Regions from separate parts of the Homo sapiens genome. Here region 1 is linked to region 2. A link means that fine-mapping ties the variant in region 2 to the expression of a gene that starts in the linked region. Tissue or cell type: prefrontal cortex. Region 2 holds a variant in brackets; the other region holds the start of a gene. All regions are shown on one strand. Distances are between the middles of the regions.

Region 1 (6,022 bases), 22 kb after region 2:
TTTGCATCAATGCAACCACTATTCAGAGTAAAAATAGGAGATTACTGGCACCCCAGAAGTCCCCTTCACTCCTCCCCTAGTCACTACCTCCAACTTTCTCCCCAGTGGTAGCCTCTATCTTGGCTCCTACCTGTAATGCAGTTTTGCCTGCTTTTGAACTTTATAGAAAGGATACCATTCCGTATGCACGCTCTTGCACTCAGCCTGTTTCACCCAACATTATGTCTGTGAGGCTGCAGTTCTCGTGGGGGTACAGTGATTCATTTATTTTCATTGGTTATTAGAACCACAGCATTATTTTTAGTATATTCACTCAACAAAGATTTATTGCATGCCAGGTCCTGTTCTAGGCCTTGGGAGAAGGCAAGGGACAAAGCAAAAATTCCCTGTTCCCTTGGAGCTCATGCTGTCTTGGGTGAGAGACCAACAACAAAGACAATAAATAAGTAGAATACATAATGTGTTGTGTGCAGATAAGCGCTATGGAGAAAAATACAAAATAAAGCAGGAGAGAAGGGATTGGAGGGTGTTGCAGCTGTACACCGAATAGTTAGGGAAGGCCTTGCCGAGAAAGTCATATGGAAGCAAAGACCCAAAGGAGAGGAAGGAGGGAGCCAGGTAGATTTCTAAAGAAAGAGCATTCCAGGCACAGCAAAGGCAAAGGCCTGAGTGTAACTGCAGGTTTGGCATATTTGAGGAACAGCCAGGAGGCCAGTGTAGCTGGAGCAGAGTGAGTAAGATGAGAGTGTAAGAGGTGGGCAGAGAGGGTGCCAGAGGCCAAACAGCAATTGTAAGGACCTTGGCTTTTACTTTGGGATGGGAGCCATCAACAGAAGAGTTTCAGCAGAGGAGTGATAGAATTTGACTTAAAACAGCAACAACGACAACAACAGCAAAACCAACAGACTCACTCTGGCTGCTGGATTGAAGAAGGGCTGTAGATGGAGGCGTGGAGAATGGCCAGGAACTCCTGCTATCACCCAGGTGAGAGATGATGGAGATGTGGACCCAGGTGGTAATGGTGCATATGGCAAAAATGGGCTGCAGCTTGGAAATATTTGAAGGCCAAGCTGAAAAATTTGCTCCCAGATTGGATAGTGGGGCTGAGAGAAGATGGGTCGGGTTAAGTGTTCTAGGTTCAGATGTTCTGTCAGTTTTCTTAATTAATTTTCTGTTACTGGGCATTAGGGAGGTTTCTAGCTTCTCACTGCTGTAGGCAAGATGGTGGTGAACATCCTTGTAGATGGTTCTGTGCGCTGCCCAGAATGAATTTTCTAGGGTAGATTCAGTCCTTCTAATGCAGCATTTTCCAACCTTGGCTGACTGTGCACCACCTGCACAGGTATTTACTTGAAAGCGGTATGGGGTAGTGGTTAGAGCATTCATCTGTGCCAGAGGCCTGGGGCAAATCCCCATCTCTGGTGCCAGAGGAAAGGGGGCATCTCGAGGCTGGGGAGGCCCCTGGCAGGAGTGAGAAGTCCTGAGGAGCCCGGGCTTCAGGTCTCAGAGGGGGCCACTGTTTTTTGAGTACCTTCCTCTCTGTGGGACTCAGTTTCCCCATCTTCACCATGCCAGTGAGTGGGTGGGTGTAAGTGAGCGAGTCTGCCTGGAGGATCCTACTGCTGCTCTCTGCACCTCTTAGGGGAATCTCCTGCCTCCTCCTTCTCCCTTGGTGGGCGTGAGATCAAAGTTCAAATGTGTACCTCAGTTTCTGCATCTATAAGTTAGAGGCAATAATAGTCAATACCCTAGAGGTGGAAGTAACTGAGTTACTGTCTGTAAAGACTAGCACATGGTAAACACTTTCTAGATGCCAGTTATTTTCGTTATTTTTAAAAATTGACTTCACATTTTTTAAAACAACCAAATATGAGTTTCAAAAGGAACATTTACATTAACATGTTAAATGGAAAACCGGTGTCATTTGCTCCGGAGAACAGAAGAATGTAAAATAAAATATATTTAATGGAAACAAAAACAATGCTATTAAAGCTAATTAGATAGTTTCAGAGCCAAGTAATCTAGGCAGTGCTAGAAAGGTACTCAAACCCTATTAGTACTAAACTGAGAAATAAACTCCATTCAACATAAACGGAAAAACTGAAAGGAAAATGAAAAAAAAGAACCTTAAATGACCAGTCCACTCTTACCTAACATGTAACCTGTCACACTCTGGAAAAGTTTTCCTAGTTTTGGCTGTGTGTGCGTGTGTGTGTGTGTGTGTGTTGGGAAGTGAGGCGTGTGTTGGGAAGCGATGTGTGTGTTGGGAAGCGATGTGTGTGTGTTGGGAAGTGGGGTGTGTGTATATTGGGAAGCATGTTTGTGTGTGTTGGGAAGCGGTGTGTGTGTTGGGAAGTGGTGTGTGTGGGGTGTGGTGTGTGTGTGTTGGGAAGTGGTGTGTGTGTGGGGTGTGTGTATGTGCACGTGTGTGTTGGGAAGCAGTGTGTGTGGGGTGTGTGTGTGTTGGGAAAGCAGGGAGTGTAGTGTGTGTTTGTGTTGGAAAGTGGTGTGTGTGTGGGGTGTGTGTGTGTGTGCACGTGTGTGTTGGGAAGCGGTGTGTGTGGGGTGTATGTGTTGGGAAAGCAGGGTGTGTGTGTGTTGGGAAGTGGTGTGTGTGTGAGTGTTGGGAAGCAGGGTGTGTGTGTTGGAAGTAGGGGGTGTATGTGTATCGGGAAGCATGTTTGTGGTGGGGGGAAGCAGGGCGTGTGTGTGTGTGTATGTGAGTGTTGGGAAGCAAGGTATGTGTGTTGGGGGAAGCGAGGGCTGTGTGTGTATTGGGAAGCATGTTTGTGTGTGGGGGGAAGCGAGGGCTGTGTGTGTGTATTGGGAAACATGTTTGCGTGTGGGGGGGAAGCAGGGCGTGTGTGTGTGTTGCGAAGCGGTGTGTGTGTGGTGTGTGTGTGTGCGCGTGTGTGCTGGGAAGCGGTGTGTGTGGTGTGTGGTGTGTGTGTGTGTGTATGTGTATGTGTTGGGAAGCGGGTTGTTCCGAGGACTCCCCGATTCCCTCCTGGTTGAAACGTGGCCCAGAAAGAGAGGCACACTGGCTAGGGCACACAGCCAGGGCCGTCCAGCCCCGCAGGAAGCCCCGGTCCTGCCCTGTCCCAGGTAAGCCTGGCCAGCCCTGGAGCCGGCGCTGCGGGGCTGCGGGGCTGCGGGGCTGCGGGGCCACGGGACAGGAGCGGGTGCTGCGGTCCCGGCAGAGCAGGGGCGGGGTCCGGGCGGGGGCGGAGCCGAGCGCCCGCGCACCCGGAGCCGCAGCCCGAGCCGGAGCCGGAGCCGGGAGTCGTGGCCCGGAGTGGGCCTTGGAGTCGGCGCGCAGGCGGCTCGCGGTGAGTGCTGTGCCCAGCGCCTGGGGGTGGGCTGGGGGGAGACTGTGGGCGCCGAGGGTCCCACCCCCGGGACTTGAACACTTGGCTTCTGAGCCGTCCTGGCCGCAGGGCTTGGGCAAGGGTTGCCTCGGTTTCTCCTGGGGGAGTCCCAGAATGTAGATGGGAAGTGAGACGGAAAGGGGGCATCTCGAGGTTGGGGAGGCCCCTGGGCCACTCTTTTGATTTCCTTCCTCTCTGTGGGACTCAGTTTCCCCAGCTTCACCATGCCAGTGAGTGGGTGGGTATAAGTGAGAGAGTCTGCCTGGAGGATCCTGCTGCTGCTCTCTGTACCTCTTATGGGAATCTCCTGCCTCCTCCTTCTCCCTTGTTGGGTGTGAGATCTAAGTTCAAATCCATCCCTTCCCAGACAGCCCACACCAGGACCTGCGAGGCCACATCCCCCAGCTGTTTGCTCTCCTATGCTTCTCAGGTTGATGGAGCAGCCATCTGGTCCTGCTTTCATTCCAACAAACTGAAAAGCCCTCCACCCCAATCCCCCTGGGGAGGACCTCCTGAAGCTGCATGAGGGCTGGGGGCTGGACCCCTGCTTCTGAGTTTGCTCTTTCTGAGCCTCTCCTGCCATGGCCTTGGTTTCCCCATGGGCTGTGACCTAGCCTCCTCCAGGGTCCTTGTTCTACAGAGGGGAAACACCTGCCCTGTCACCCTCCCCTGACCCCTTAGTGAAAAAGACCAGAGTGACATCCCCACCACCTGTACTTGCCTGTCCCGATCACTCAGCCATGGGGCTGCTGGGGCCCCTGAGTTTGTTGGCTGCTCAAGGCCCCTTTGCCTCGCTGCACCCTGGGATCTGAGGCTGGAAGCATCCTCATCCAGCCCACCTCCCTCCTACCCAGTGCAGAGCCCCTCTGTGACACATGCCCAGTGGTGGGGAGCTTATTACTGATGAGGTGGCTTTTTAGTGCCTTGCAGCTCTTGTTTCCTTTAGCTAAAATCTGTGGCTTACAGATTCTACACCTTGGTTCCATGTCTGTCTCCCGGAGCCATGCAGAGCAAGTCAGTTCTTTCATTCTTTCCAGCAGTCATCATTCATGCACTGGATGAGACACGAGACAGAGCAGTAGGAAAATCAGACAAAACCCCCTGCCCTCATGGAGTGCACACTCTAGAAAGGAATGGACAGCAATGAAATAAGTAAATACATGGCGTAGCAGGTGGCGGGAAGTACTACGAGTAAAACAAAGCTGGGAAGCAGGATGGGGTGCTGGGGCTGGGTATTGCATTGTATATAGCACAACCAGGGAAGGCTTCCCCAAGACCACGATAGCTGGGCAAAGTCATAAGGAATTGAGGGGTGAGCCACATGAGTATCTGGGGGGCTGGGAGGCTTTGGTTTTCACTCTGAGCATGATGGGAGCACGGGTTTGGAACAGAGGAGTCACCTGCTTTGACTTGGGGTCTGGCAGGCCCATCTAGCTGTGGGGTGGAGAATGGATCATGGGGGGGGTGGGGTAAGGGCAGAAGGAGAGCCCGTTGAGCGGATCATTGCTGTCATTCTCGGGAGAGACCATGGTGTCTTGCCCATGGCCCAGAGGTGGTTAAAAAAAAGAAAACCAGACATTCAGATTTGGGATATATTTCAAAGGCCGTGTCGATAGGGTTTGGGGTGCAAGAGAAAGGTAGAGTCAAAGATGATTCTGAGTGTTTGGCTCGAGCTTCTGGAGGTTTGAAGCTGCCATGAACTGAAATGGGAGTTGCTTAGCGGAGAGATCAAGAGTTTGGTTTTGTGCTTGTGGAGTTTGAGCTGCCCATTAGGCATCAATGATGAGTAAGCAGTTGGGAAAAGTTAAGGGCGGAGGTTGGAGTTGAAAATAAAACTTTGGGCATCATCACCATATAACTGGTATTTAAAGCCACAAGAGCAGGTGGGCTCATCTAGGGATGGAGTGATATGGAGAAGAGAAGGGGTCTAACCATTGAGTGCTGGGGCCCCCAGTGTTAGGAACCAGCCAAGAAGACAGAAAGAGTGAAAATCAGAGAGTTGGGGTGTCCTGGAGGAAATGAAGAAAATGCCCCAAAGAGGAAGGAGGGAACAAATATGACCAATGCCCCTGGCAGAGCAAGCAGGCTGAGGGCTGAGGATTGAGCAATGGGAGGTCACTGGTGACAGTTTCACTGGAGCTGGATGGGGAACTAGAGGGAATGGGAGGGGATGGGAGGACTTGGGGACAGCAGTACAGGCAACAGACAAGGGGGCCTGCTGTAAAGGGAGCAGATAAATGGGATTGGAGCCAAATGAAGAAGGGGAGTGTCAAGAGAGTGCTTTACTTTTACAATGGAGAATTAGAGTGCATTGTGCACTGGTGGGGGGATTTGATCTCTTAGGGAGAGAACAGTGTTAGGGAGGGAGAATGCAGGATAGCTGGGGGAGGGTGGGGGGCTTGGCCCCAGCAGAGACTCAGGACACTTGGGAAGTTGAGCTTCCCTGGGCTTCCCCTCCTCTCCTGTCTGCAAGGGGTCAGTGGGCTGAGATTTCAGCACTTAAGCAAAGCATTTGCTCTTGGCCCCAGAGAAACCGGGCTGGCTGTGGTCTCAGGAAGGAAGGAGGTGTCCAGGCTCAGGCCTGGGCCTGGGTTTCAGGGAGGGCCCACGTGGGTCGCCCCTTGACCCTCTCTTTCAGCAAGGAAGTGATCCTT
Region 2 (5,880 bases):
GCGCTACGTGGTGAGAAACTTACCTCCTTTTGCAGGACAACATTTTCCAGTCCTTCTGAGTAAATCAAAGAGAAGTCTCAGCTTGGTGATTGCAGGTCTCTAATGCTTATTTCTCTGTCTCTGTCTCTCTCTCTTTTAACAAAAGTCTACCAGCGGCCTCAGGCTCAGGGCCTGTCTCAGGTAAAAGCGGGTTAGGGTGTAATAACAGTGATCGGTTTCATTGTGTTTATTTTTGTAGCTACTTTCTAATTATAGCAAGTGATTCTGAGTTTCCATTTAGGATAGTAATAGGAAGTTTCTTTTTCAAGTAAATGTGCATAAGTAAAAGGAGACTGCTCAAAGGAAAACAGCTGGTGATTGATAGAACAGGCTGTGGCATTGTTGGGCCCCAGAGGGAAGGGCTGTGTGAGCATGCAGGAAATTCTGGGAAGGCAGCTAAATGCAGTTGCTGCATGGGGGCCAGGAAGCATTTGGAGACGTGGCTGGGCACAGCTTGGCTTTTGAGCCCAAGAGAGGCCTGCTGGGGATGTGTTGGGAGCCAACCTACCCCTACCAGCAGGTGGAACTGGTTTTGCCACTCCAAAACAGAGTTCCAGCTATGGGGACAGCCACTAGAGAGCAGAGCTAAGGGCATTCTAGGCCAAGGGGTCACAGTCCACCCTGAACTGTGCCTCCCAGCCTGAAGCCAGAAAGCTCAGGGAGGCTAGCGGCCCTGCCCAGGCCTCAGCACTGACCCTGCACCCCTAGGCCCAGCTGGATGACCCCTAAGAGCTTCCTGGAATTTGGATGCAGGGTTATTCTGTGTGTGCTGCCTCTCAGAGCATGTCACTTTGACGTGGACATCTCGGGTCTGGTTCTGGTGCTGTCCCTGTCTCGCCACGTGACCCTGGATAAGTCATCTCTCCAGGCCTTGATTTCCCCATCTGTAAACAGAGGTGAGTGAAATGATCTTTAAAGGCGTGTCAGTCCATTTTGCATTGCTATAAAGGAATACCTGAGGTTGGGTAGCTTATAAAGAAAAGAGGGTTATTTGGCTCACAGTTGTGCAGGTTGTACAGAAGCATGGCACCAGCATTGCTTCTTGTGAAGCTTCAGGAAGCTTCCACTTATGGTGGAAGGGGAAGGGGGAGTTCGTGACTTACATGGCAAGAGAGGGAGCAAGAGCCATGTCAGGCTCTTCTAAACAACCAGCTCTCATGTAAACTAACAGAGTGAGAACTCATTCATTACCACGGGGAGGGCACCAAGCCATCCATGAGGGACCTGCCCCCATGAGCCAAACATCTCCCACCAGGCCACACCTTCAACACTGGGAGTCACATTCAGCATGAGATTTGGAGGTGACCACCATGCATCCAAACCATATCAAGGACCCATTTCGGTGAGGGGACCAGGAACATATCCCTTCCCCTCTCCTCCACATCCTTTAATGTGGAGTTCAGCAAGGAAAGTAGGGCTTGGGTCAAATTAAAGCCTGGTCTTAATTTCCTGGTCCAGTTATTAGCTGTGTAACCCTGGGCAAGTCACTTAACCCCCTCAGGTTACAATGTTACAAATGATCACATTTTCCTCAACTGAAAAATGGGATAGGAACATGTCCCAAGCAGAGCTGGAGTGACGGTGCTATCAATGGCCCGGCAGTGCCTGGTCACACAGTAGGCCTGGGGAGCCCTGACTTTTACCGCACAGGGAGCTGCTTGCAGAGCTTGTTTTCAATTGTGGGCTTGGCAGGGAACTGCCGGCATCCCAGGGGACAGGGTCTCATGAGGATGCCTAATCCCAGCTCAAAGTGGAGACCCCAGGACTCCATCACAGCCAGTGGGGGGGAGTGGCTGCTGCAGCAGGGAGGGCTTCATTGGAATGAACCCCTTTAAGCTCCAGTCCAAATGCCCAGAGTGGTTTTGCAGGTATGGTTGTGAGGCTGGCATGGTAGTCCCATCTGCAGTCCCCTGGGATGAGGCACCTGTATGGTAGAGGGCCCGGGTGGAGAGAAGAGAAGGATGGGGATGAACCCAGGACCACAGATGGCCCAGTTCCATGGATGATTTTCATTGAGGTGCCTTCAAGTCAGTTCAACACTGGGCTTCTCAACCTTTGAGGTATGCAGGTAAGAGTCACCTGCGGCAGTGGGGGATGCTCTTGTTAAAGTGCAGACTCCGATTAAGCAGGTCTAGGGTGGGGCCTGAAATTCTGTGTTCCTAACAAGGCTCCATCCTGGGTATGGAGGTCAGGTACCCCCTCACCTCTCCTGTGGACCCAGCTTTTGAGGGGTCAGGAGAAGAATGTTCAGTCCCAGCTGCCACCACTCTAAAGTCCCCTAGAAACAAGGACTAATACAGGTGGCGTGGGAGAGGGCCCAGGCAAACAGGGAGGTGGGGTACCCCGGTGGGGCTGCAGTGGGCCCTGCGGAAAGCTTGCTGGAGGTGGGGGCCTAAGGAATTCAAGGACTTGTTCCAGGAACCCAAGGAACGAGTGGGCTCTAACTGCTGCAGCATATGGGAGATGCCAGGAGGAGCTGGCTGTGGCAGGCCATCCCAGTCCATCAGACAACTTGTAGTGGATGAAGATGCAGTGTCCATGGCCAGAAGAAACTCCCGTGGATGCTCAGGCCAAGGCTGCCAGAAGCACGAGGAGGGGCAGCATTGAGTGTCATCGGGAAAAGGCAAAGTGATGGTCCTGAAGCTGCCCCATGTGGCCAGTCCCTTTTTGGGAAGCCTGAATAAATCCATTTCCTGTGCACTGTGTGGGAAGCCAACCCCTCTTCAGAGGTACTTATGGGGAACCCCCCATGTGATTCTATAGGCTCCTTTACTCCCATATAAGTATTTTCTCTCTGTGTGCACCCCCCGCCCCACCCCCCCAACACCCCACACATATCATCTATCTGTGATTTTGAGATGACTTTTTTTTTTCACATTTCAGCACCTCTGAACTCAACAGGATCCTACACTTCTTATAGGCCTGGCTTGATGCTGACATCCTTCAGCCCCAGGGAAGACCTAAAGATCTCCAGGTCTTGAGGCACCTGGAACACCTCCACCTGAGACCACTTTAACATGATTTCTCTGCTTGAGGGATTTTGGACCATGCTGTGTGTATTCAGCCCTAAAACATGGG[C/T]GAGTGCCCGCTTGCAGTTCAAATTCTCAGAGGAAGTTCCCTGTACTCCACCCAGTGCCAAGTTTAGTTTGTGCAAATTTCCTTAATGTCCCCTCCTGTACAACAGGCTTATTTGGTGTTAACCCTCATATCGGGGGTCTAACTCTTTGCTTTTCCAGCTTTTGTGCTGGAATATCCCATTAAACTGTCCATGTTGGGTATTTTTTCTTTGTTAGTAAACATTTGTTGCATATTGTTGATAGCATTTTAGATTTGAAGAAATAACTGACAAAATCAATATCATCTGTTTCATCATTACAAATAGACTCATAGCTCTTTAATTTTTCCATTTAACACTTTAATTTTCCATAGGCCTAGATTTTCAAGAAGTCCAATATCTCTCACTTGAAGTGTCTTTTCCCTGGAGTAGATTGGGAGATTTGAGGGATATCTGTCCAAAGATGAGACAGTCTGTTTCTAGTTTCCCATCCAGCCTGATGGGGCGTCTACAGTTTTTACCACAAGGTGTCGCTGTTGAACAGATTCTGGTGCAGTCTAGTGCATAGCTGTCCACTTCTAGAGTGATCACTTGCTGGGCCAAGTTCCTCTCCTTAAGTGGTGTCTCACATTAAGGTTCCCAAATTACAGACTCATTAATTCACCCTAATAAGCTCATCCAGGCAGTTTAGGTCTTCAGGGGCTTCCAGCCTCCAACACACATTGGGCCAAAACCAGCCTGTACCACCAGCTCCAAGCCCTGTGTTGAATCTAGGTCATTGGTCCAGATGCCCCTTCATTCTGGGCCTGTGGTGTCCTTTCCAGACAGCAGACCTCAGTTAAGGGCATCCCAGTCCATCAGAGAAGTTCCAGGATCACAGACCCTCAAAAGGGGCAGTGTTGAGGATTCAGTCTGTTTTCTGCCCAGAGGCCCCATTAAGTATGTTGTATCACCTCCTCCCCAGGCTGTTTCTACATAACCCAGGGAAGCCATTCAGGGAACAGCTGCCTTATGAATGAAAATCCACCCCTAGACAATGTGCTATGCCATCCCAGCCAGAAAAATTGTTGGCAACTTCCCTTGCCAAAAATGCCTGGTATCACAGAATCTTATGCCATTATTGCTTTCTGGTCCAGGGTCCTCCCACCCTTCAAAAGGATGGCATACAACTCCCACCGTGTGTGTGTGTGTGTGTGTGTGTGTGTGTGTGTGTGTGTGTGTAGAGGCTGTTCTTGAGGGCAATAGGTGAGCTTTTGTTTTGCTTTGTCAGGTCTACATGGTAAGGGGGAAGGGCTAGAATACTAAGATAGTATTAGGATAATGGATGGAAATATTTTAAAGCAATTCCAAGGTGGAAGGAACAGAGAGAAAAGCCTTGGAGCAGCTGGAGAGAACTGTCTTCAAGGAAATGGACTAAGTTTTGTCTAGAATGTGTGAGGTAAACTTCTTCTCCAGCTTCCCACAAAGACACTGGTGGGGTGGACACTGCTCTGGACGGTTTTGGCAGTTGGTTTTGTGTTTTGGAGATGAAGTGGCCCTGGCATCAAGAGGACGTGGGACACAAGCAGAGGCTTCCAAGGGGTCCCAGGAGCACCTCTGTCCAATACAGATGGAGAAATTGAGGACCAGAGGAGGGGCTTGTCCAAAGTCACCCAGCGAGTTAGAGCCCCCAGTGGCTTTTCCCATTAAAAATGAACCCCAGGCCAGGGGTGGTGGCTCACACTTGTAACCCCAGTGTTTTGGGAAGCTGAGGCAGGAAGATCATTTAAGGTCAGAAGTTAGAGACCAGCCTGGGCAACAGAGAGACCCTGTCTCTACTAAAAAATTAAAAATTAGCCTGGTGTGGTGGTGTGCACCTGTAATCCCAGCTACTTGGGAGGCTGAGGTGGGAGGATTGCTTGTGCCCAGGAGTTTGAGGCTGCAGTGAGACATAATTGAGCCACTGCACTTCAGTCTGGGTGACAGAGCAAGACTGTCTCAAATAACAAAAAAGAAAAGGAAAAATAAAAAAAAAGAACCCCAAACAGCCCACTGTGAGCCATGGTGACCCCAAATCTCCAGCGTCCCTGCGGGGTCCCAGGCCGGCTCAGTGCAGGTATTCTCGCACAGTGAGCTCCTTCAGGGTGATGCCTCGGGGCGTGGGCCTCCGGAGCTGGCTCTCCTCCAGCCTCTCCTGCAGAGTCACGAAGTCCTTGCCCAGCGCGTAGGCCAGGCGGACCATGGCGTCCAGCAGAGGCGCATAGTAGCGATGGCCCTCCCGGGCCTGCAGGCGCTGCAGGGCCCTCTCTCCGGCCGCGAAGGCCTCGGCGGGGCGGTCGAGGTCGCGGTGGCACAGCAGCACGGCGCACAGGGCCGGGACGGCGGCCGCAGGGCAGTGGGCGGTGAGCTTCTCCTGCAGCGGCAGCACGCGCAGCAGCAGCTCCAGGGCGCGCGGGTACTGGCCGGCCCGCAGGCAGCCGAAAGCCTCGCGCAGCTCCGGCCGCGTGAGGAAGTCCAGGAACTCCCGGGAGCGGCGCACGCAGCGGATGGCGTAGAGCAGGCCCAGGTACTCCTGCAGGGCGCGCCGACGCTCACAGATCATCTCCTCAGCGAAGTTCCCAGTCAGGTGCTTCCTGGGAAACTCCACGTCTTCGATCTCCTCCCTGAACGTCTTCAGCAGCGCTTTCTGGAGCTTCGCGAAGTCGGAATAGCGCCGTTCCAGGACGGCCTTGTTGTTGTCAAAGCTCCCAGTCTGGATGACGATGATTTGGTACACCTAGGGCGCAACCAGAGAGAGCTGTGGCCAC

Alleles and levels. Positions count from the first base shown, and alleles are read on the strand shown. Sizes are in standard deviations (SD) of each study's normalised expression.
With allele T in place of C in region 2, the expression in prefrontal cortex of the gene that starts at base 3,273 in region 1 is higher (moderate effect, 0.50 SD a copy in BrainSeq).

The links. PIP is the estimated chance that this variant, and not a neighbour inherited with it, causes the effect.
Region 1: NOD2 starts here. The variant in region 2 is fine-mapped to the expression of NOD2 in prefrontal cortex (BrainSeq, PIP 0.95).

The regions. Positions count from the first base shown.
Region 1 is chr16:50,690,334-50,696,355 of GRCh38, forward strand. NOD2 (nucleotide binding oligomerization domain containing 2) reads left to right here and starts at 3,273. Exons shown (of 12, transcript NM_001370466.1): 1 at 3,273-3,329. RefSeq lists a silencer at 2,993-3,502 and enhancers at 3,873-3,922, 4,163-4,242.
Region 2 is chr16:50,668,226-50,674,105 of GRCh38, forward strand. It overlaps SNX20 (sorting nexin 20), which reads right to left. Exons shown (of 4, transcript NM_182854.4): 4 at 3,404-5,849. The coding sequence ends at 5,181. LOC101927272 (a long non-coding RNA gene) reads left to right here and starts at 630. Exons shown (of 3, transcript NR_110908.1): 1 at 630-935; 2 at 2,458-2,768; 3 at 2,923-3,414. The variant C/T (reference allele first, on the strand shown) is at 3,118.